Homo sapiens: one gene and its partners. The protein of the gene in region 1 purifies or fractionates together with the protein of each later gene. This does not show direct contact. Each region holds a gene or a part of one and is shown in the gene's direction. Other genes may lie near its edges.

Evidence for each region.
Region 2: the proteins of FGF8 (region 1) and DDX24 purify together in Homo sapiens (affinity purification with mass spectrometry; 2 studies listed by BioGRID and IntAct, with this or other methods). This does not show direct contact.
Region 3: the proteins of FGF8 (region 1) and AP3B1 purify together in Homo sapiens (affinity purification with mass spectrometry; 2 studies listed by BioGRID and IntAct, with this or other methods). This does not show direct contact.
Region 4: the proteins of FGF8 (region 1) and ANKRD17 purify together in Homo sapiens (co-immunoprecipitation; 3 studies listed by BioGRID and IntAct, with this or other methods). This does not show direct contact.

What each region holds. Positions count from the first base shown.
Region 1 is NC_000010.11:101,768,923-101,773,558, reverse strand, and holds the end of FGF8 (fibroblast growth factor 8 isoform F precursor), read left to right. Parts: intron 1-1,982; exon of another isoform or gene 1,983-1,989; coding exon 1,990-2,096; intron 2,097-2,862; exon of another isoform or gene 2,863-2,939; coding exon 2,940-3,230; 3' UTR 3,231-3,450; downstream 3,451-4,636. UniProt on the Homo sapiens protein: Plays an important role in the regulation of embryonic development, cell proliferation, cell differentiation and cell migration. Required for normal brain, eye, ear and limb development during embryogenesis.
Region 2 is NC_000014.9:94,057,203-94,064,202, reverse strand, and holds part of DDX24 (ATP-dependent RNA helicase DDX24), read left to right. Parts: intron 1-1,581; coding exon 1,582-2,106; intron 2,107-3,136; coding exon 3,137-3,290; intron 3,291-3,589; coding exon 3,590-4,105; intron 4,106-6,305; coding exon 6,306-6,381; intron 6,382-7,000. UniProt on the Homo sapiens protein: ATP-dependent RNA helicase that plays a role in various aspects of RNA metabolism including pre-mRNA splicing and is thereby involved in different biological processes such as cell cycle regulation or innate immunity.
Region 3 is NC_000005.10:78,001,331-78,005,333, reverse strand, and holds the end of AP3B1 (AP-3 complex subunit beta-1), read left to right. Parts: intron 1-2,278; coding exon 2,279-2,432; 3' UTR 2,433-3,008; downstream 3,009-4,003. UniProt on the Homo sapiens protein: Subunit of non-clathrin- and clathrin-associated adaptor protein complex 3 (AP-3) that plays a role in protein sorting in the late-Golgi/trans-Golgi network (TGN) and/or endosomes.
Region 4 is NC_000004.12:73,087,124-73,095,253, reverse strand, and holds part of ANKRD17 (ankyrin repeat domain-containing protein 17), read left to right. Parts: intron 1-1,025; coding exon 1,026-1,175; intron 1,176-2,953; coding exon 2,954-4,587; intron 4,588-8,130.

The sequences.
Region 1 (4,636 bases):
TTTCCAAAAGCCCGGTCGGGAGAGCTGCCGTAAACTGCGGCCCCAGCTCCCCAGATCGGAGCAGATTCAACCGACATGGGAGAGAGCGGGCTTTCTGGGGTGGGGGTGGGGGCGGCCTGCCTGGTGGCCGAGCTCCCCTACTGGGCTGGCAGAGCAGGCCTACCATCCCTTTGTCCCTCCAAATTAGCTGCTTGCTGCCCTTCTCAGCTTCTAAGGAGAGGAGACGAATGCCTGGCTCTTCCAGGGTTTGCTCTGTCAGAGCAAATGGCCCAGCATCCTTGGATTTCGGGGAGGGAAGCAGAAGTCAAGCTGGTGTGGGGGAATTCATCTTCAGACATCAGAGGAAGCCTGATGTCCACTTCTCTCCGTGGCCATATAAGAGGTTTCCCGCCTTCCCTAGTCCCTGCCCCACAGCAGGATAGGAGCTGGAGGCCCTAAGAACAGAGGCTCAGGGTGTTCAGCCAGGACAGGAGTAGTCCGGGGAGAATAGCAGAGAGGTCTCAATGGCTTCTTTACCGGCCCCAGGAAGATGCAGAGGCACCTACTTCATCCCTGCCTGCCGCATCTGGCCAGAATCCCCAGAGTGGCATCCTCTCACTCCTCCAGTCAGCATCCTTCCTGGCCCTTAAAAATAGCTGCCTCTTGCTGTGGAAGGCAGAGCGGGAGAGGGATGAGCAGACTGGCTAGGTCCAGGAGGAGGTGGGCAGGCAGGGAGGTGACAGCTGCATTTCCCTGCTGACTTGGGGCCAAACCGGGGGCTTGGCCACTGGTCCCAGCACTGAGCCTGTGTGAAGCGGGGAACATTACAAGCTGAGCAGTGATGACTGACTTGCTGACCTCGATGCCCCAAACCCCTGCCATGGGTTTCAGGGACAGAGGAGGTGCCATATGTCAATGCAGGCTAAGTCCAAGAACTGCTTTCTCAGGGAGGGGAGAGGCTGGGCTCTGCGGCAGGGACGGCAGGAGAGCCAGCGCCTTCTGTCCCTTCCTAAACAGTGAAGTCACCCTCACTACTTTCTTGAGGACAGCCTATAAGAGATGATTGCACAGAGAGGTGAACAGGACAGGCTTCTGTGGCAAGTTGGCTGTCTAAGGGGAGGGGAATGGGAAAGGAGGCATAGAATTCAGCCCTGCCTCCTGGCCTCCAGTCTAAGAGGCCAGCAGGCAGGATTCTCCCTCCTCCTCACCCACAGAAGCTATTTGGTCACTGGGCTGAGAAGCCCAGCTGTGATGAGGCTGAAAGAGAAAAGACAATTGAGTTGTTGATTTCTAGACACTGGGCTGGGGACCCTGGTGACTGGGAAGCCACAGGGAAGAGGCAGGATCCTCCTGGCAGGTGTCTGAGGTTCTGGGAAAGCAGCCTGCTTTGGGCTGTGTGTTTAGGGAGAGCTGTCCCCATCCCTAGCACCTTCTCAGCAGAGCAGAGCCTGGTGATGTTGAGGGGCTGGGGGTGGCCAAAGCTGTGAGTTAGAACCCAAAGTGGCAGAAACAGGAGACAATGCTTTCATCTTTGGCCTTGGGACTGGAGGTCACCCCTTCACCCAAGTGTTTGTAATGACCTGTGAGACACGCACACATAATATTTGGAGTTGGAAGGATCCTCGGAGATCTTTTGATTAGCTATGGAACTCTGATTCAATTAAATTTTACTTAGATCCTCAATCTAAGAGACATCACTGTCTGGTTTAAAAAGAGGGTGGAAGGAATGGCACTTCAGCCTTTTCAATTTGATAGTCCCAAGACCTCTCTTGAGAACCCAGTTTGAAAACCATAATCCCGTCCACTGCCCTCTGTAAACCCAGGGGTGGGGCCCGAGGTCCAGAAAAGCCCTTTCTCTGGGTTGCACAGCATGTTAGTAGCTGGGCTGGAGCTGGAGTCCATGTTTTGGGTTCCTGGTCTTTGGAGCAGTTGCTGCTGGGCTGTGACAAGTGTGTGGGCCAGCTGGGGTCAGGGATCTGCCAATAGCCATCCTGCTACCTTCTCTGACAGCAAAGCTCATCGTGGAGACGGACACCTTTGGAAGCAGAGTTCGAGTCCGAGGAGCCGAGACGGGCCTCTACATCTGCATGAACAAGAAGGGGAAGCTGATCGCCAAGGTGAGGCCCCAGCAGGCAGGTGGGGTCCGCGGGACCTAGGGAGTGGCTTGGGCTGGCTGGACTCCTCCAAGACAGTCCTGGGCTCTGATCCCAACAAGGTAGGCAGAAGGCCACAGGGCCATCTTGGGGTTACCTCACGATTGGGTGCAGGAGTGAGGGAGAAGGAAGCTGTTTGAGAGATGAAAACTATAAAAGGCGAAGGAGGAAGAATGAAGGCTAGGGAAGGGGCTGGGGGGTGGTGGTTGGTAAATTCCATATATCTTTTTAACAAATCGCCAAATTGCTTTGCTATTATGTCCAATTACATGGTACCAGCATTTGGAATGTTCAGTAAGCCGCAGGCCCAGCCCCTCGGCCGAGCTCTGAAATGGCTCCATTAGTCACGGCTCCTCTCCAGCCTCGAGCTCCCCACTTCCTGGGCTTCTGGGGCTGGGGTCTTAGCATCTTCTCCCAGGCCTCCCCTCCCCCATAGGGTGGCTGCCCTGGGGCCAGGGAACCGAAGTCCTGGGGGGGTGAGAGGGGCAGGTGGGGAGACGGGTGGCCAGACTGGTGGGCAGGAGGCCAGAGCAGGCCAGGCTCTGGGCCCCTCTCTCTGTCTTTCTGCGTTGGGGCCCAGCCCCTCCGTAGACAACCATGTGTCACTGCTGCCTGGGAGGACAGGAAGTTGCCGGGTGGGCTGCGAGTTGTGAGGGATTAGAGAGCGGGTGCCCAGGCAGGGGGTGGGGCTGCGGCTCCTGCCCACCTCGCCATCTGCTGGGGTGCCCACCTGCTGTCTGGGGCCGCTCGCCCTCTGCCTCTGCTGGGGGGGCTCTGTAACGTGGTGTCTGGCTCCCCTACCTGCAGAGCAACGGCAAAGGCAAGGACTGCGTCTTCACGGAGATTGTGCTGGAGAACAACTACACAGCGCTGCAGAATGCCAAGTACGAGGGCTGGTACATGGCCTTCACCCGCAAGGGCCGGCCCCGCAAGGGCTCCAAGACGCGGCAGCACCAGCGTGAGGTCCACTTCATGAAGCGGCTGCCCCGGGGCCACCACACCACCGAGCAGAGCCTGCGCTTCGAGTTCCTCAACTACCCGCCCTTCACGCGCAGCCTGCGCGGCAGCCAGAGGACTTGGGCCCCCGAGCCCCGATAGGTGCTGCCTGGCCCTCCCCACAATGCCAGACCGCAGAGAGGCTCATCCTGTAGGGCACCCAAAACTCAAGCAAGATGAGCTGTGCGCTGCTCTGCAGGCTGGGGAGGTGCTGGGGGAGCCCTGGGTTCCGGTTGTTGATATTGTTTGCTGTTGGGTTTTTGCTGTTTTTTTTTTTTTTTTTTTTTTTAAAACAAAAGAGAGGCTCTATTTTTGTATTCCACTTGGCTGTGGTGTCTGTCTTCTTAACTCTCAGAAAGCTCCATTAGTGGCCTAGACTGGGATTCCGGCTGGGGGTTTGCGGGGGTGGGGGGCTTTCTCTAGCCTGTGCTGCTGAGGCCCCAGTACCTCCAGGGCCAGTTGGCTGGGCAGCCAGGGACTCCACTGCACCCCCAGGTGGGGCAGGGAGGAAAGGACTGTGACATAGGGCAGTCCTCTTAGAAGTGGGTATCAGACTGGTGGCTATTAAATGATTGAAATATTTATTTAACTTGCATATTAAAAATGTGTGCTGGAGAGTGAGTCCTGCCGGGGTCAGCCCCTCCCTCCAACCTTGCCCCAGCTGGTGGGCGGCTGGGAGACGCAGATGACCAGGTGCCAGCTCTGACCACAGCCTCCCTCCAGCCTAAAGACACCTGCCTGTCAACCATCCCCATCACTGTCACTTGAGGGGTTTTCCTGCAAGGACAGAAGCAGGGAAAGGGGCAAGAAGAGGCTCTTAGCTAGTCCTTGGAGCTCTCAGATGTGTACCTCCTAGCACTTTACAGAGGTCATTGCTAACACTTCCCCAGGCCACCTCAGGGCCAGAAATAATGGATGTGCTAGGGCTAGAGCTGTAATCATGGATTTAATCCTCTTAAAAAGTGCTTCTCTGAGTGCCTAGGTCCATGTGGGAGACAGGTTGGAGATTCCAGAACTTGCTCTTTCTGAGACTCAGGCTCCAGAAAATGAAAGAAAAGAGCAGCTGCCAGGGTCCAAGGTGGGGGCATATTGGAGGGGGACCACCAAGACTGGTGTTGACAATGGTGATGTGGGACAAGTGTTAACCTTGGGTGATATGGTGAGATAGCTGTGGGCAGAAAGCACTGAGCTGAGGTGCGGTGAGGAGCCTGGGGAACTGTCTTCCAGGAAGAGGCTGCCCACCTCGGAGGATGGGCCTGGCGGGAGAGGAGCTGGGCACCGGATGGCACCAGAAGGGAAGCTCATAGGCCTAGCGCAGAACTAAAGGCAGTCATAGCCTTGGGGAGAAGCAGGAGGCCGTATGTGGAGGGAGGGAGGGCTGCTGTGGGAGTGGTGGAGCAGGTCATGGTGTGGGCAGAGAAGGGAATGGGCAAGGGTGCAGGTGTGTGTTTGCGTGTGGACTGGTGAGACTGGTGTCCTGCCACACCGAGGGAGAGCCCAGGCCCCAC
Region 2 (7,000 bases), on another chromosome or scaffold:
ATTTTATCTTTTTTGTTGTCTTATTAGCTATAATTCTTAACGTCTTTTTAGTGATTGCTTTGGGGTTTATAGTATATATCTTTTATTATAGTTTACCCTCAAGTAATTTACTACTTCGCATACAATGTAAGAACCTTACAAGAGTATTTTCCATTTCTCCCCTCCTTTGTGCTTTTTGTTGTATACTTCATATGTGTTAGAGATTCTAGAATACATTTTTATTATATTTGCTTTAAACAATTATTTTTAAAGATGTTTAAATAAGAAAAATAAGGGGTTTTGTTTTTTTGTTTGTTTTTAGAGACAGTATCTCCCTCTGTCACCCATGCTGGAGTGCAGTGGCACGATCATGGCTCACTGCAGCCTCAAACTCCCATGCTCAAGCAATCCTCCTGCCTCAGCCTCCCAAGTTTCGAAGACTACAGGAGTGTGCCACCATGCCTGGCAAATTTTTTTAAAGATGGGAGTCTCACTATGTTGCCCAGGCTGGTCTTGATCCTCCCGCCTAGACCTCCCCAAGTGTTGGGATTACAGGCATGAGCCACCATGCCTGGCCATAAAAAGAAGTTTTTAAATATTTACCTACGTAGTTACTGTTTCGGTTGCTCTTTATTTCTTTGGGTACATCCAGATTTTCATTTTATGTTATCTTTGCTATTGCATGAAAGACTAATATTTCTGATAGCTTACATTTGCTGCTGGTGAATTATTTCAGCTTTTATATGCCTAAAGTCTTTATTTCACATTTTGTTTTGAGTGGGTGTAGGGTTATAGATTGTCAGGGTTTTATTTTTAGGCATTCAAATAAAAAATATTGCTACACTGTCTTCTGGCTTTTCATTGTTTCTGATAAGTCTGCTGTTCTTCTTATCAAAAGTTTCATGTGTCTGTTTTTGCTCTCTTTTTTCCTTATAGTATCTTATTTTTGTGTGTGTGGTTATTTTTTACTGAGAGCTGCTTATTTCCTTTGAAAATTGTGAAAATTTTTGGAGATGTATGGTAATGGTTTCTCCCTTGAGAAAGCATTTATTGGCTTCTGCCTAGGGCATTATCACTTTGGAACTTCTTTAAATTCTCAGCCTGAGATGTTTTGTTTTGACCACCCAGATGATTTGGACTCTGTGTACATTCAAAGGCCAGTTTGAAAATGTTCAGGCATAGACAAAAGTTTTATATTTACATTTTCTGAAAACTTAAGAAAATTTTCTTTTACTCCTTTCTCACCAAAGAAAAGTCTTGGGAAAGTATTGTATGGATTACTGTTTCCTGCTCCTCACAGAAACAACACATACACCCAAAACTTGCCCTTTCTCTCTTTATTGTTTCATTTCTTGGACATTTGTAATTCGTTACTGGTGACCTAAGACCTCAGTGCTAGCCTGCCATACTTTTCCTCGGGTTCTAATTTACATGTGCCTTCTGGTTCCTTCTGGGGAAATCTGTGTAGAGTGGAGGAGCTTTGGGTCGGTCAGGGTGGCACTTGGCTACCTTATTCTATGCAAAAGAATGAATTCCAGACTAAAGTATGTTCATCTGTTGATTCACACTGTTTTTACTTTGTTTTGTTTTTTTACTTTTAAGGAAGTGGGAAAACTCTTGCCTTTGCCATCCCAATGATTCATGCGGTGTTGCAGTGGCAGAAGAGGAATGCTGCCCCTCCTCCAAGTAACACCGAAGCACCACCTGGAGAGACCAGAACTGAGGCCGGAGCTGAGACTAGATCACCAGGCAAGGCTGAAGCTGAGTCTGATGCATTGCCTGACGATACTGTAATTGAGAGTGAAGCACTGCCCAGTGATATTGCAGCCGAGGCCAGAGCCAAGACTGGAGGCACTGTCTCAGACCAGGCGTTGCTCTTTGGTGACGATGATGCTGGTGAAGGGCCTTCTTCCCTGATCAGGGAGAAACCTGTTCCCAAACAGAATGAGAATGAGGAGGAAAATCTTGATAAAGAGCAGACTGGAAATCTAAAACAGGAGTTGGATGACAAAAGCGCCACCTGTAAGGCATATCCAAAGCGTCCTCTGCTTGGACTGGTTCTGACTCCCACTCGAGAGCTGGCCGTCCAGGTCAAACAGCACATTGATGCTGTGGCCAGGTTTACAGGTGAGGTTTAGTTCCATTTAATAAATATTTTCTAGGTAAATCCCAAATGCTCGTTGGTAAAGATGAATGAGCTGTGGCTCCTGCCCTCTAGGGTAAGCCACTCTCATCTATAAGCCAGACAATTAAGCCCTACAGAAAATTGATATAGTGACATTTTTTCAGTTCCCTCAAGGATAATACATGGTTGGTGCCATTGTGGATGCATAGGAAATTTATTGGATACAGTAGATGCTCAGGGCAGGGATTAGCAAACTGTCTGGTTTTATAAATAAAGTTTTGCCGGAACACACCCACACCCATTTGGTTTTATATTGTCTGTGGTTGGTTTTGTACTACAAAGGTGAAGTTGAGTAGAGTTAATAGTTGTGACAGAGACCATCTGGCCTATGAGGTCAGTAATGTTCACTAGTGACCCTTTCAGAAAAAGTTGGCTGATCCCTGCTCTAAGCTATTAGGATTTAATTCTCTCAGGGAATTCACTCTGGGAAGGGCTTCACTCTGGGAATCTTAATTTTATAATGAAAGCAGCAATTAATTACCAAGTTGTTACTATTGCTAAGCCCTTTACCCACATGATACTATGAGAATTTCTGCACCAGAGACGAAAACAACAGGGCATTAGTGGACCTTTCAGAATAATTCTAACTGAGGGAATGGAAGGGCTTCCTAGGAGAGGTGTAGCACAGCTGCAGGTCATATTCCTCCCAGCATTATGGTGCCCCAGTGCTCCGTTTTCCCAGAGCTTTGGAGGTAAGCATACCTGGGTTCAAATTCAGCCCCTTTGGTGTGGTTGGAGGGGAGGGAGTAGAAAAGAAATGAGGCTGAAGAAGTAGAGCTCAGATCACAGAAGACTTGGTAAGCCCTCTAGGAGTGGCGTCAACAGTCTGGCCAGGCCTGCTCTTTTAGCAATGCTCTAGGGCATTACACTGTGCTGATGTCTGTCTCTGCTAATCTGGGGTGCCTGTGTCAGCCATGTAAGAAAATGATCACCCAGATTGAATAAGTGTCCCTTATGTTTTCTGTCCCATAGGAATTAAAACTGCTATTTTGGTTGGTGGAATGTCCACGCAGAAACAGCAGAGGATGCTGAACCGTCGTCCTGAGATTGTGGTTGCTACTCCAGGCCGGCTGTGGGAATTAATTAAAGAAAAGCATTATCATTTGAGGAACCTTCGGCAGCTCAGGTAATAGATGGCACTTCTCTTTTCCCCCTCACTGCCTTTTCTGAAATGAGCCTTAGGTGACATGGTGTGGGCAATGCCTTCTTCTCATCGCAGAATGCTATGGTGTGGTATCATCCAGACCCTGGCCTTTAGAAAGCCAAGAGTGCATGAGGGAGATTAGTTGAGGGCCTGATGGTGGTGGTGGTAGTGGGGTGTGTACGTGTGTGTGTGTGTGTGTTTAGGATGAGTGTAGGGTGTGCTATAGATGATTCCTCTTAACCCGCTGCTGACCAATGATATGGGTCTCTCTGGATCTGCAGGTGCCTGGTAGTGGATGAGGCTGACCGGATGGTTGAGAAAGGCCATTTTGCTGAGCTCTCACAGCTGCTAGAGATGCTCAATGACTCCCAATACAACCCAAAGAGACAAACGCTTGTTTTTTCTGCCACACTCACCCTGGTGCATCAGGCTCCTGCTCGAATCCTTCATAAGAAGCACACCAAGAAAATGGATAAAACAGCCAAACTTGACCTCCTTATGCAGAAAATTGGCATGAGGGGCAAGCCCAAGGTCATTGACCTCACAAGGAATGAGGCCACGGTGGAGACGCTAACAGAGACCAAGATCCATTGTGAGACTGATGAGAAAGACTTCTACTTGTACTACTTCCTGATGCAGTATCCAGGCCGCAGCTTAGTGTTTGCCAACAGTATCTCCTGCATCAAACGCCTCTCTGGGCTCCTCAAAGTCCTTGATATCATGCCCTTGACCCTGCATGCCTGTATGCACCAGAAGCAGAGGCTCAGAAACCTGGAGCAGTTTGCCCGTCTGGAAGAGTAAGTTAGGACTGTCCCCAGAGGCTTAACCTCTAGTTAGTTACTGGGGTAAAAGGGGTCAGGATGGTGGGGAAATGGTAGAAAAGCCACCTTCTGTCATAGGGGCCTTGTCTCAGTAGTAGGTAGCCTTTTTTTTTTTTTGCACAGCATTTGGCAAGGTTACTGTCATTTAGTGAATTTGGTTGCAGTTAAATGCCATACAGAAACTTCAATACTAATGAATATAGGTGACAATACATAATATTGAATGTATAGACAATAGATTAGGTCCTGTGCTGGCACTTTAGATTCAGAATCACATTCAGTTACTCTCCTAACATCCTTAAGAGGAAGCAGAATAGATTCATGGTTAAGAGCACAGATCCTGGAACCAGAATGCCTGAAATCAAATCCTAGTTCTGTCACTCCTTAGGTGGTCAAGTTATTTAATTTCTCTGTACTTTAATTTTCTCATTATTTGGATAATAATAGAACCCATTCTAGGGTTGTTATGAAGATTGATTGTAAATTCATGCGTGTAAAGTGTTTAGAACAGTCTCTAGCACATAGTATGTATATATTGCTAAATGTTAGCTTTAATAATTTCTAGTCCCTTTACTACTTATTACCATTATCACTATTCTCATTTATAGATGGAAAAATGAGGTCTAGAAAAGCTGATCAGTGTGCCCAAGGTTTCTCTGCCTGGAAGTGGTAGAGCTGGGCCTCAGACAAGCCTGTCGGACCTCAGAGCCCATGCTATTTCTTATTCCTGATGTCTTTGTCCATCTGCCTTTGGACCAGACTGATGCTCAGGGAATGGGGTGCAGATTGTCAAGATGAGGGCCTGGAAAGTTGAGGCAGACTACAAAGTGTCTTTTGCCAGTGTTTTGTCAGGTCATGGGGTAATTAGTTTCTAGAACAAGTGTTTGATTTACTGGTTTTTAAAAATTGGTAAGTAGTATCAGTGGTTTACTGAGATTAGCTTAGAACAAGGCTTGGCAAACTATAGGCCTCGTGCCAAATCTTGCTTGCTGCCCTTTTTTTTTCTAAGATGGGGTCTTGCTATGTTGCCCAGGTTAGACTTGAACTCACGGGCTCAAGCAATCCCACCTTAGCCTCCTAAGTAGCTAGGACTACCAGTGCATGCCATCACACCTGGCTGCTGCCTGTTTTTTTAGTAGACGTTTTACTGGAACACAGCAAGACCCATTTATGTATTGTCAATATCCTCTTTTGCGGCAGAGTTGAATAGTTGCCATAGAGACTGTGTGGTTCACAAAGCTGGAAATGCTCTCTGGCTCTTTACAGAAAAAGTTTGCTGACCTTGATCCAGAGCAGTAGTTTAATGTTTTACAAACTAGGATTTGCATTGCATTTCCCGGCCTCAGCTCAGACATGCAGGGAGTGAGGACCCTGAAGGGCCAGAGTCTTATGTTTTGAAGCACCTCAAGTACTTTTGACTTTCCATGAACCACACATTGAGAAACATCATCCAACACATTTATCAAGTGCTTACCATGAACCAGATGTTGTTCTCTGTGGTGGTAATAACAGCAGTGAGTAATGCAAAGTCCTTGCTCTCATGAAGCTTACATTCTAGTAGAGGGAGATAATAAATTGCAAAGTAAGCCCACAGTCTGCCAAGTGATCCTAAGAAGTAAGTCGAGCAGGGGTTGGAGAAAAGAGATTGGGTATGTGTGGTCAGTCTCTGATGAAGTGAGAATTGAGCAGAGAGCTGAAGAAAGTAATGAAGTGAGTCATATGGACATCTGAGGCAAGACCCTTTAAGGCCTTAAGGAGTAGCAAGTGCAAAGGCTTGGAGGTGAGAGCATGCTTGGTTTGTTTGGGGAAGAGCAAGGAAGTCTGTGTGCCACTGGGAGGAAGTAAATGAGAGGGTGCTAGGAGAGGAGTCACTGACCCAGAATATGTATGGCCTCATTTAACTCACTGAAGGGAGTCTTTATCATTGCAGAGTATGGCATGTTGGTTGGGGTCAATGAGTCCCAAATTTGGATCCAGACTCCACAGCTGAATAGCCATGTAGATAGCTTGGGAAGTTAATCTCTCCGAGCCTCAGTTTTTCTGTAAAAGGGTATACAAGTGATATCTTACAGAGTATTGGTAAGGACTGTAATGTTTAGGATGCTCAGCAGTTGGTAAGAATTTGATTAAAGATAGCTGTTAGTTATTATTAATAAGCTTTCTCTCTCTACCCCAGCTGTGTTCTCTTGGCAACAGATGTGGCAGCTCGGGGTCTGGATATTCCTAAAGTCCAGCATGTCATCCATTACCAGGTAGGGGCATCTGAAAATTTATAGGCATCTGCCTGCACTGAATGGGGAATTTTTAAGGCAAAGGTTGGGGGAGGGAGGAGGAATTGTTGGTTCCAAGGCTCTTGCATCAGAGAATACCACTGGCATCGAGTGCCCACTACTCCCACTTTTGCAACACTGCTGAGATTTGGTCTCCAGAAAACCTTGCTTTGTCTCATGTCAAGTAGCCCTTCTCTCCAAGCTACTTGATATTGTCAGGTTAGAGTCTTAGTTTTTTCTGTGAAATGGGCATAAGTTAAGCATGTAATTGGTTACCCTGATGTAGAGAAGTATTAATAGAAGAGTGTGGTAGTTTAGATCTCTCTGGGCTCAAATCCCAGCTGTGTAACCTTGAACAAGTCATGTAATCTCTCTGTATCTCAGTTTTCTCATGTATTAAATGGCAGTGAGTACCTGCTTCTTAGGGTTCTTACTGAGGTAAAATAAGTTACTAAGTATAAAGAGCTTAAGAAGCCACCTGGCACATTGCAAGCACTTACTCATGTTAACTGCCATTGATAGTAGCAGTAATATTAGTGTGTGCATCTAGTGAATATCAGCATAAAATTTTGGTTAGGAGTATGGGCACCGGAGCCAGACT
Region 3 (4,003 bases), on another chromosome or scaffold:
ACCCTGAAATTCAAACAACAGTGCTTTTGTGTTCCTATTCAGGCATAATCTCCTTCTCTATGGTCCCAAGGCACAAGTGTTAAGTAAATAAAGGGACTAATAAGACTATTGTTTACATAATTATAACCCTGTCAGAAATAGGGACCTCTGTTGAAATATTTGTTGAGTGAATTACACACGTGATGACCGAATCTGTGGGAAAAGTTGCATAAATGAATGGGAAAATAGAGCCACCTCATATCCTTTGGTGACGTGGTTTTACAGGAATATAGAAACAGCATTCTCCTATGAAGCAGAAGAGCCTGAAAAATTTAGACAAAAGAAATGCATAAACCTGTGAGGAGCCTTAGAAAAGAGAGATCATTTTAGGGCTGGTGATCTTTATGTTTCTCAAAGATGAAATTGAGGTACCTAGTTCATAATCTCTCATGTGTACGTCTGAAAAGCAGATGGATGTGTGTGTTAAGAGGTTTATAAAAACCTCTTTAAAAACATTGGTATGATTTATATTCCTAAACTGGTTACTTACAATTGCTTCTCTCAGTAGGAATACTGCTCTGTCAGATTCCTTGCAAGTTTTCAGCATGCTTGTAGAGTGCACAAGCAAATGCCTAGGAAGATTTTCTAACATATTTTGTTGATAGCCCATTAGCTAACATTTTAAAACACAACTTCAAAGTGTTTATAATATTTGAAATTTAGTAAAATTAGCATATCTGTTTTGGTTTGGATACATTATTCTAATTATTGTTGGACAACCTAGTTCATGATTTTATTTGTCCAAAAATGGCTTGTTTGGTTTTAAAAAAATTAATGTGTTATGAGATCTTGATGTTATTTTTTAAAAAACCCAAAAAAGAAATTACTTTTCATTTAAAGAGAATCTGCTTCCTGCTTAAGTGGCTAATATTTTAATTAAGTCGGGAGTGAAGTTTTTCTGAGTGTCTCCTGATAAACTCCCTCTTTTATGTTGATGGTAATTAAACAGATCCCTGTGGACACCGTGGGCTCTGTGCGAGGCCCATGCTAATTGTCAGACATGAGACACTGACCAGTTGGTTTGCTCTTGAATAGTCCGCAGCGTGCTGTTAGCGCGGCAGTTTTATTTTTATGTATTGTGAGCTGTTGTCAGGGCTAACTGGGTGCCATTGTGGCTGAAGATGTTGCGCAAATTGAGGCAGATGGCTCAGATTCAGACACGTGTCATATAGAAAGGGGCAAGGGGATTGGCCCTGCAAAGTGGGGTCACAGCAGGTCACAGACCTGCTCTACACTTGTTAGTGTTTTCAAAAGCTCATGTGCAGCAACTTTGTTTTTCTCCAGTCATCCCTGCAATCAAACCCCCTCCCCCAAAAAGTGTGTGGAACATGCTTCATGTGGAAAAGGGAGGCTTGGGAGGTTCCTGTCCTCTTCCTTCATGACCCTGAGGCTCAACTGTGCATGCAGAATGAATTAGCAGGATTGACAGAAGTTCGTTATGCCTGCAACGGCTTTTCAGTCAATTGCAGTGCTTAAAAGGCTAGTTTTGCTTTTAGTTCCGTGTAATCAGTAGGTTCTTCATGTCTTGGAATTTAGAGTTAGAGCTTTAGACCTCCAGTTTCCTCTGGAAATGTTTTTGTTTACACTCTACAGAAAGAAAGATCTAATGTCCTAAACATTTCAAAACAAAGAAAAAGGGAAGCGTGAGGTTGCACTTAGCTGTCACGTGATTTTGCTTCATGTCATCATTAACATTAGAGATTTAATTTGAATATTGTTACATGAGTGAATTCATTGAAACTTAGTAAGAATTTTATAATGTACGTAAAATTATCTAACTTATTACATAATCATTTTCAGATATGAGGAGTTAAATTTTGAAGCTCTTTGAGAAAGGTACCTTTTCTTAACATGTTTTAAAAATAAAAATACAATGGCTTATTTAAAATGTCCCTATGCATGGTGAAATGTTAAATACCAAGTGGATGAATGGTTCTCAAATATATTGTAATGGAGAATTATTCACATGCATCTATTGTTTAAACTAATAAGTAAAATAGACTTCCTTTTTCTGTTCTGTTTTAAATGTGCACTAAAATTACCTGCTTGTGGTTAGCATGGGCTGGACAGTTTATTGATTTTTCAGAAGAATGCTTGGCTTTGGGTTTTTGGCAATAGGGAGCCTGCAGCAAATTATTTCATTTGACAAAAAAGAGTTATTTTAATCCTATTTGAATGTATGCTATCTCCTTTACCCTCCCCATCTTATGATAAAAGGTCTCTCTTTTTTCTCTTCCAGGTTTGCAGCTAAAACTGTGCACAGTGGGTCATTGATGCTAGTCACAGTGGAACTGAAGGAAGGCTCTACAGCCCAGCTTATCATAAACACTGAGAAAACTGTGATTGGCTCTGTTCTGCTGCGGGAACTGAAGCCTGTCCTGTCTCAGGGGTAACCTGCTTACATCTGGACTTTAGAATCTGGCACACAACAAAAGTGCCTGGCATCCACTACTGCTGCCTTTCATTTATAATAATAGCCCTTCCATCTGGCAGTGGGGGTAGAATACACTCTTGACATTCTTGTCTCCTGCTTTAGAATGCTAGTGTGTATCTATCATGTATGCAATACTTTCCCCCTTTTTGCTTTGCTAACCAAAGAGCATATATTTTACTGTCAGTTGTCTCAACTCTTGAATCCATGTGGCGTTTTCTCTGTCCTGCTGCTTCTTTTGGCCTCCTCGTTTTCCTTCTCTTTTTCGACAATGGTAGACATGAATGAGATATTTAAAGTTCATTGGAAATCTTCTTCCCTACAGCAGTAAGCAAAAATTAGCAAAGAGATAGTCTAAATGGCCTCTCAGCTTGGTATGTGAAAATGAGATCACATACTTTTTAAATCCAAATACAAAAGCATAGTCTCTGCAAGATTTTGTTCTTTGAATTTCTTGATATTGTAATTGATTATTGATAACTGTCATCATGAAATTATCTCTCAATAATAAGATAAATAAACTAGCATATGAATCATATTTGTCTTTGCATTTTTAATGAGAAACTATTAATAATCCTGAAGTTCATATGCTAAAGTTTTCTTATTTTAAAGCAAGTATTTTGAGTGTTACATTATGCAGAGAAGCAATGTGGTTTAGTTAGCGAAAGAAAAACCACTTCCAAACCAAGTAAATTTTCTACTTATAGTTTACTCCAAGGAAAAAAAATTGGTGTATTTAATAACAAAAACAAAAATCTTCATATTGCAAAATAAACATCTTCTAGGTAGTTTTGATCTATTAGTAGATATCTGATTATGTGGCCTGCTGAATAAATTCTTTGAATCTCATTTTTCCTTATGCCCAACTTTGGAAACTAACTAGCATAAACTTATAGAAATGTTTAAAACTAGTTATATGATCAACCTATTAGCATCTTTTCCTAGAGTATTTGTTTTATTTGCTACCTTAAGTTACTGTTTTCAAGGTTGTTCTATAATCAGAGAACTTTTCTAATACTTTCGTACCTTTTTAAAACCAGCTGAAATTTTACTTCCTTTTTGAAGCAAGGTAATGGACTTTCAGGTAGTATAAGCTACTCAGTTCTTTTTGTATAGAGCCACATACATAATGATTTTTAAAAAGTAAAAAGGAAGTGACTGTACATTGCTTGAAGCATTATAGGAAGGCTGAAAAGAAAAGAATGGAATTTTCTTGGAACATACATATTGAAAAGAACAAAACAGAGTCGAAAAATTATTTAAATTTTCAAGCTGGTGGGATGACAAGAGTAAACAAAATTGTTAAATTTTCCTGCTCCAGAAAGAAATATAGCCCTGAATCTCCGGGAAGAGAATGTACAGAAGTGCAATGTACAGAAGCCACGTGTACATTTTGTGCCAATTCCGTACCATGTGTACATTCTGTACCATTCTGTACCAATGTATGGAAGCCACGAGTTCCACTTCCCTCTGGAGCCTGGGCGCTGTGGTAACACACCCAAAAGCCCCTTTGTAATCGCAGGTCGTTGGCAT
Region 4 (8,130 bases), on another chromosome or scaffold:
AAGTTTTCATATTTGTGGATGGTCATTTTAATGCTACTATAAGAATACAGGGAAGTAATGAATATTTTTTCTTTTTTCCTGAGAAGGAGTTTCACTCTGTCACCCAGGCTGGAGTGCAGTGGTGCAATCTCAGTCCACAGCAACCTCCATCTCCCGGATTCAAGTGATTCTCCTGCCTCAGCCTCCTGAGTAGCTGGGATTACAGGTGCACACCACCATGCCTGGCTAATTTTTGTATTTTTTTCAGTAGAGACAGGATTTCACTATGTTGGCCAGGCTGGTCTCGAACTCCTGACATAAAGTGATCTGCCTGCCTTGGCCTCCCAAAGTGCTGGGATTACAGGCATGAGCCACCACTCCCAGTCATGAATTTTTAACATCACTCTTTGAGTTATGTATATTAGAGAATAAAAAGAAGCATATGAGTAAAGCACCAAAAGGGGCCCACAAGAAGTCTTTCTTGACTCTTGAGGCTAGATTAGATGCCCAACCAGTATATATACACACACACATATAATATATATATATACACATATATACATGTATATATTATACGTATATACATATATATGTCTATATATACATATATGTATATATAATACATTTGTGTGTGTGTACACACATACTATTGCAACACTCATGACATGGTGGTGTTTTCATAATTAGCGTGTAGATAGTCAATATATGTGGGCAGAAACCCATGTCTGTCTTATTTACCGTTAGTATTTGCATTAGCACAGCACGTGTCTACATAGTATGTGCTTTACCGATACAAGTGAAGAATGATAATCAACAAAGCAAACAATCTTTGATAGTGAGATGAGAAGCTATAATAAAGCTTATCTGTCTGTTGCTCCTGATTGCCTTTTCTCTGTTCATCTAGAGTAAGAGTAAATAGAAGAGGCTTATTCAACAATATTCTGTATTTATAGAAAGACATTTTAGTAATACTCTTTCCTCTTTTAAAAATTACAATAACTATTGTTAATGACTAATCTTAATTTATATATACAACTTTTAAACAGGTCAAAGAAAGTATCTGTTCCATCAACTGTGATATCCAGAGTGATTGGAAGAGGAGGCTGTAATATCAATGCTATTCGGGAGTTTACTGGTGCACACATAGATATTGATAAACAGAAAGACAAGACTGGAGACCGGATAATCACTATAAGGCAAAACTTTGTCTCTTACATTTTCTTCCTTTATTTTATTGCACTATAGCTTAATGAAATACAGCCATATGAGTTTTCAGTGGAACTTTGTGTTACATAGTATACTTTTTAAAATGGGAATTTTATTAGTGTTTGAGAAGATAAATTTTATAGTTTTCTTTTTTCCTAGGTAATACACTTTTGTGAAGTGTTTCAGAGACTTTTATAGGAATTTGTATGCATGTGTAGCAAAGGTTTAAATAAATAATTTCTGTACATAAACTGTTTATATGACATTCTTAAAAATTTGTTCTGAGACTTTTAGGGAGCGCATTTCTAACATTTTAAGCAGTGGGTTTTTGTCTTTCTCAAATAACCTTTGAGATTTGTTATTCTGAGATTGTGTCTTTAGAATTTGAGTTCTTGGGCTGGGCACGGTGGCTCACGCCTGTAATCCCAGCACTTTGGGAGGCTGAGGCGGGCGGATCACCTGAGGTCAGGAGTTCGAGACCAGCCTCAACATGGGGAAACCCCGTCTCTACTAAAAATACAAAATTAGCCGGGCATAGTGGTGCATGCTTGTAATCTCAGCTACTCGGGAGGCTGAGGCAGGAGAATTGCTTGAACCTGGGAGGCAGAGGTTGCGGTGAGCCGAGATCGAGCCATTGGACTCCAGCCTGGGCAACAAGAGTGAAACTCCCTCAAAAAAAAAAAAAAAAAAAAGAATTTGAGTTCAGATTTGAATCTGAAGTGAAGATATAACTTATCTTGAATAACTCGTCGAATATGTCTATGCCTGAATATTCTTAAAATAAAAGTGATGTTCTAAGAAATCATAAGAATGTAGGAAGCTATATTTAATTACTTTAAAGTAAATTCATGTTCCTTTGAAAAAGAGTTTTATATTTTTTACATGGCAGATATAAGTTTGTATGAGGCAGATGCCCCTTTGCATTATATAGGAGAGCTAATAGTTACATCATACCTCAAAAATAAGAAAGCAAGTAGCCATCTCTATTTTATTCATCGTCCTCTCCTTCTGACTGGTTTTCCCCTGGGTATTTGGGTAGTCACAGCCTATCTTATCTAGAAAAGAGGGAACCAGATACCCTTTATTGGTAATTGCTCCCTTGAGTTTCCATAAATATCAAATATTTTCCTGAAGATCCAGCACTAAGGTTTTATATGGCTATTTTTGGCACTATCAGGATTCCTGCATCATTTTAAGACATCTTCCCAGAGGAGTTACAATAATTATCCTATTAATAGACAAACTACTAATGAATTTTTAGTAGACGGAGTCATCCCAGATACCAAGATTTAAAATAAAATACTGTTTTCTTACTCAGTTGTATTATTTTCCTTGTTTACTTCTATTATTTTTAGTGTTGATTAACTGTTTCAATATTTTTAGGATTAAATGTTTCAATAACATTGTGGATTACATAGGCTTTTATGTGCAGTGGTTTTTCTAACTGTAGTGTATTTTACAGTAGGAAAATGGTTTCTTAGTCTAAGGAAACAATAGTGAAATGTATTTTTGAAAAATAAGTCATTTACTATTCTTCTGAAAAATAAAAGTAGTAATTCAGGACAGTTTATTGCTTTGTTTGTAGAATACCTCAGGAATGGTAAGAAAATTGCTGCCCAGCTTTTGTTATCTGTCCTTTGTTTGTATGTGTGTATGTATATACACACAAAACTGTGTGTGTGTTTGTGTACATAAATACATATTAAAAACACTTTACATACTCAAAAGTAGGGAAAATTCTACCTAATTTTTTTTTCTCAATTTATAGGGGTGGCACTGAATCAACAAGACAAGCAACTCAATTGATTAATGCTTTGATCAAGGATCCAGACAAAGAAATTGATGAACTTATTCCAAAGAATCGTTTGAAAAGCTCCTCAGCAAATTCCAAAATAGGGTCATCAGCACCTACCACCACTGCTGCTAACACTTCCTTAATGGGAATTAAAATGACAACTGTAGCTCTGTCATCAACATCTCAAACTGCCACAGCACTCACTGTGCCTGCAATTTCTTCTGCATCCACTCACAAAACCATTAAGAACCCAGTGAATAATGTGAGGCCTGGTTTTCCAGTTTCTCTTCCATTAGCATATCCTCCTCCACAGTTTGCACATGCTTTGCTTGCTGCTCAGACTTTCCAGCAGATCCGTCCACCAAGGTTGCCCATGACCCACTTTGGAGGTACTTTTCCACCAGCTCAATCCACTTGGGGTCCGTTTCCTGTCAGGCCTTTGAGCCCTGCCAGAGCTACTAACTCGCCTAAGCCTCACATGGTGCCTCGCCATAGCAATCAGAATAGCAGTGGTTCTCAGGTGAATTCAGCAGGTTCTTTAACTTCAAGCCCAACAACTACAACCAGTTCATCAGCTTCAACGGTGCCTGGTACATCTACAAATGGCAGTCCAAGTTCACCTTCTGTCCGAAGGCAGCTTTTTGTCACAGTTGTGAAGACATCCAATGCCACCACAACAACAGTCACAACCACGGCAAGCAACAACAACACTGCACCCACAAATGCCACATATCCTATGCCTACTGCCAAAGAACACTATCCAGTATCATCCCCATCTTCCCCATCACCACCAGCCCAGCCAGGAGGGGTTTCTAGAAACAGCCCTTTGGATTGTGGATCAGCATCTCCAAATAAAGTGGCATCTTCCTCCGAACAGGAAGCAGGTAGTCCACCAGTAGTAGAAACAACAAACACTAGACCTCCAAACAGCAGCAGTTCTTCTGGGAGTTCATCAGCTCATTCTAATCAGCAACAACCTCCGGGATCTGTTTCTCAGGAACCAAGACCACCTCTTCAGCAGTCTCAGGTTCCTCCCCCGGAAGTTAGAATGACTGTTCCTCCTTTAGCAACAAGTTCTGCTCCAGTGGCGGTGCCTTCTACTGCCCCAGTGACTTACCCTATGCCTCAGACACCAATGGGATGCCCCCAGCCTACTCCTAAAATGGAAACCCCTGCTATTAGACCACCCCCTCATGGCACAACTGCCCCTCACAAGAATTCAGCTTCAGTGCAAAATTCATCTGTTGCAGTCCTCAGTGTCAATCACATTAAAAGACCTCACAGTGTTCCCTCTTCTGTCCAGCTACCTTCGACCTTAAGTACACAAAGTGCTTGTCAGAATTCAGTACATCCAGCAAATAAGCCTATTGCTCCCAATTTCAGTGCCCCCTTACCATTTGGGCCCTTTAGCACATTGTTTGAAAACAGCCCTACTTCTGCTCATGCCTTCTGGGGAGGATCTGTTGTTTCATCTCAGTCAACACCAGAATCTATGCTATCAGGAAAATCCTCATATTTGCCAAATTCAGATCCTTTACATCAGTCTGATACTTCCAAAGCTCCAGGTTTTAGACCACCATTACAGAGACCTGCTCCAAGTCCCTCAGGTGAGTTTATATTTTCTGAGATTCTGCAGCTGTTCATTTGCACAAGTGATGTGAAAATTCTTGGTCATTTTCTAATATTTTTATTCTCTGGACGATATAGACAAAGATTGTTGGATTTAGTTAACTCAGATGCTGTTGTTTGTGTTTAGTATGGTGTTATTTTTAAAAATCTTTTTAAAAGCTACCATAGATTTTTATTTAATTTTCCATAAATAAGTCTTCTGATCAGGCGGGGTTTTTTTGTTTGTTTGCTTTTTGAGACAGAGTCTCGCTCTGTCACCCAGGCTGGAGTGCAGTGGCATGATCTCAGCTCACCGCAACCTCTGCCTCCCAGATTCAAGTGATTCTCCTGCCTCAGCCTCCCGAGTAGCTGGGATTACAGACGTGCACCACCATGCCTGGCTGATTTTTGTATTTTTAGTAGAGATGGGGTTTCACCATGTTGACCAAGCTGGTCTCGAACTCTCAACCTCAGGTGATTCACCCACCTTGGCCTCCCAAAGTGCTAGGATTACAGGCGTGAGCCACAGTTCCTGGCCTAGGCGTGTTTTTCTCTCTCAGAAGTCTTTCATGTTTTAATTTAATAAGGTACTGTCACCAAAAGTTTACATTTATTACAAATACAAAATAACAGATTTAAAAAATTGGGTTTCATTTCGCATTATCTTTTTTATTTCTAAAATAATTTTAAAAATAGAGCTACACAGTCTGATATGGTAGCCAATAACCATGTGTACTTTTTAAATTTAAATTAATGAAAATTTTAAAAATAAAAAAATTAGCTTCTTAGGCTACCCATATTTAAGTGCTTAAAAAACACTTGTGGCTGGTAGCTACCATATTGGACAGCAAAGATCTAGAACATTTCTATTATCCAAAATTCTACTGGGCAACACTGATATATGTAGAAGATACAAAGATCTCCTGATTGTAAGCTATTGCTTTTTTAAAAAAAACTTTTTACTTTAAAATATTTTTAGATTTATAGAAGAATTCTATAATTCCTCAGCTTCCCTTCATGTGACCATCTTACATAACCATGATACATTTCGAAACTAAAAAAATTAATATTGGTGTAGTACTACTAACTAGACTACAGATTTTAGGCAGATTTCACAAGTTTTTCAAGTAATATCCTTTTTCTATTGTAGGATCTAATCCAGGATGCCAGTTTCCATTTAAAGCTGTTGGGTTTTAATATAAGCATTTCAAGTAATTAAAGATAGTCCACGTAAGAGATGGACACACTATGGTCTATGGGCCAAATTTGGCCTGCTGCCTGTTTTTACATTTCTTAAATGTTTAAAAAAAAATTTTTTTTTTTAAGAATAGGCTTGGCACGGTGGCTTGTGCCCGTAATCCCAGCACTTTGGGAGGCTGAGGTGGGTCGATTGCTTAAGCCCAGGAGTTCCAGACCAGCCTGGGCTTAAGGGGAGACCCCATCTCTACAAAAATATAAAAATTAGCTGGGCATGGTGGTGCATACCTGTAGTCCCAGCTACTTGGGGGGCTGAGGTGGAAGGATGACTTGAGCCCTAGAGGCAGATGTTACAGTGAGCTGAGATCACACCTCTGCATTCCAGCCTGGGTGGAGACCCTGTCTCAAAAAAAAAAAAAAAAATTTAAAAAGAATAAACATGCAACACAAAATATGAAATTTTAATTTCAGTGTTTGTAGAGAAAGCTTTACTGAAACACAGCAATGCCCATTCATTTGCATATTGTATAAGGCTACTTTTATGCTACAATGACAGAATTGAGTAGCTGGGACAGAGACCATGTGACCTGCAAAGCCTAAAATATTTGGTATTTGGCTCTTGGTTGCCAACTCGTTATCTGTGTTATTGGAAATATGACATTCCGGGACAAAAATTTCCAAGTTTAATGGGAACTCAATGTTATTTTTACCTATTTCTGTAACATGTAAATAAAATTTAATGAAGGTGGTCAGTAAATATTCTTTGCTAAAAGTCAACTGAAATATTTATGTGTACTATGAAAAATAATTTATTTTATATTAAAACAATAGAATCAATATAATTAGATTTTAGATCATTATGTGCCAGTGCGTAGGAAATGCTTTAAGTTTGATTTTTATAGTAGTTGGAATTTAATACTTTACCTTTCCAAAAATGTGATAATCTAGGTGTGGGATTCAGAAAGGCTAAAATTAAGCTTTAGAGAACAAAAAAATAAATTCCTATTTTTTGAAAAGGTATAGAAGAAAGACCTCTGTAAGAAAGGTGAGGTTTTTAGGGAGTGTATAGTTGATGAGAGCCAAAATTAGCATTGAAGTTTAACTTACAAGTCAATTACCTAATTCAGGTCATTTTGAGTTAAAGATACTCCTTTTATTACATAGGAAGTATGTCCTTTTATTTTCTCCTAAACCTCTCTCAGATCCTAATTTTCACTTCTCTCTACTTCTTCCTAATTCATTTTGTGTTCCATATTTTTCTTCCTTTGTTTAACTTTTCTTATGTAAATAATTTGATTATTTGTATTTTAGACTCAGATCTGTTTTTATAGTTTGTATTTTGAAAAGTTATTTAAGTCACATAAAGATCTAAGGACAGAATAAGCAGCATAGTAAATACTTGGTATTTCCACATTTATTAATATATTCTCTGCTTGTTAACATCTTTTCAAACTCTCTCCCTCACTCCCCTCCCTTCCTCTCTCCCCTTTTCCTTCTTCCCTCCTTTTTTTTCCTCTCTTTTGCTGCTTCCTTTTCTTCCCCCTCTCTTGTCTTGTCTTACCTGTCTCTCCCCTTCTTCATCCTTCTTTCCTCCTTTTCCCCCTTTCTATCCTATCTCTATTTTCTTTTCTTCCCCATCTTTTGTCAAATCATGAGAAGATAACTTTCAAACATGATACTTTACCCCTAAATACTTTGATATGGATCTTCACAATGTTTGCCTTCACAGCTATGCCACTATTACTGCACCCAATAAAATGAGGATGAATTTGATAATAACACCCAACATAAAATGCCATTTTCCCAAATATATTCTTTCTGACTATGTGTGTCTCTTTTCCTTGCCATTTGATCCAAGACTCAATCAAGATTCACACATTACTTTTGGTTGTTATGTGTCTTTGGTCTCCCTCTGTCTAAAGTATTCTACTGCCTTCCTCTGTAATTCTTGACATTGACTCTGTGGGCAAGTTTAATTCAGTGATTATGTCAATCCATGATTAGATTCAGATCAAATATTTCAGGAAGGAGCATCATATAGGTGATGTTTTGAACCTCACACTGCATTTTATCAATGACAGATTGGCTGGATGTGGTGGCTCACACTTGTAATCCCAACACTTTGGGAGACTGAGACAAGAGGCTCATTTGAGGCCAGAAATTTAAGACCTGCCTGGGCAACATTGTGAGACCTTGCCTCTACAAAAATAAATAAAAAAGCTGGGTGTGGTGGCATGTACCTGTAATCCCACCTACTTGGGAGGCTGAGGCAGGAGGATCACTTGAGCCCAGTAGATGGAGGCTGGGGTGAGCTATGAGCAACAGAGCAATCTCCTGTCTCCTTA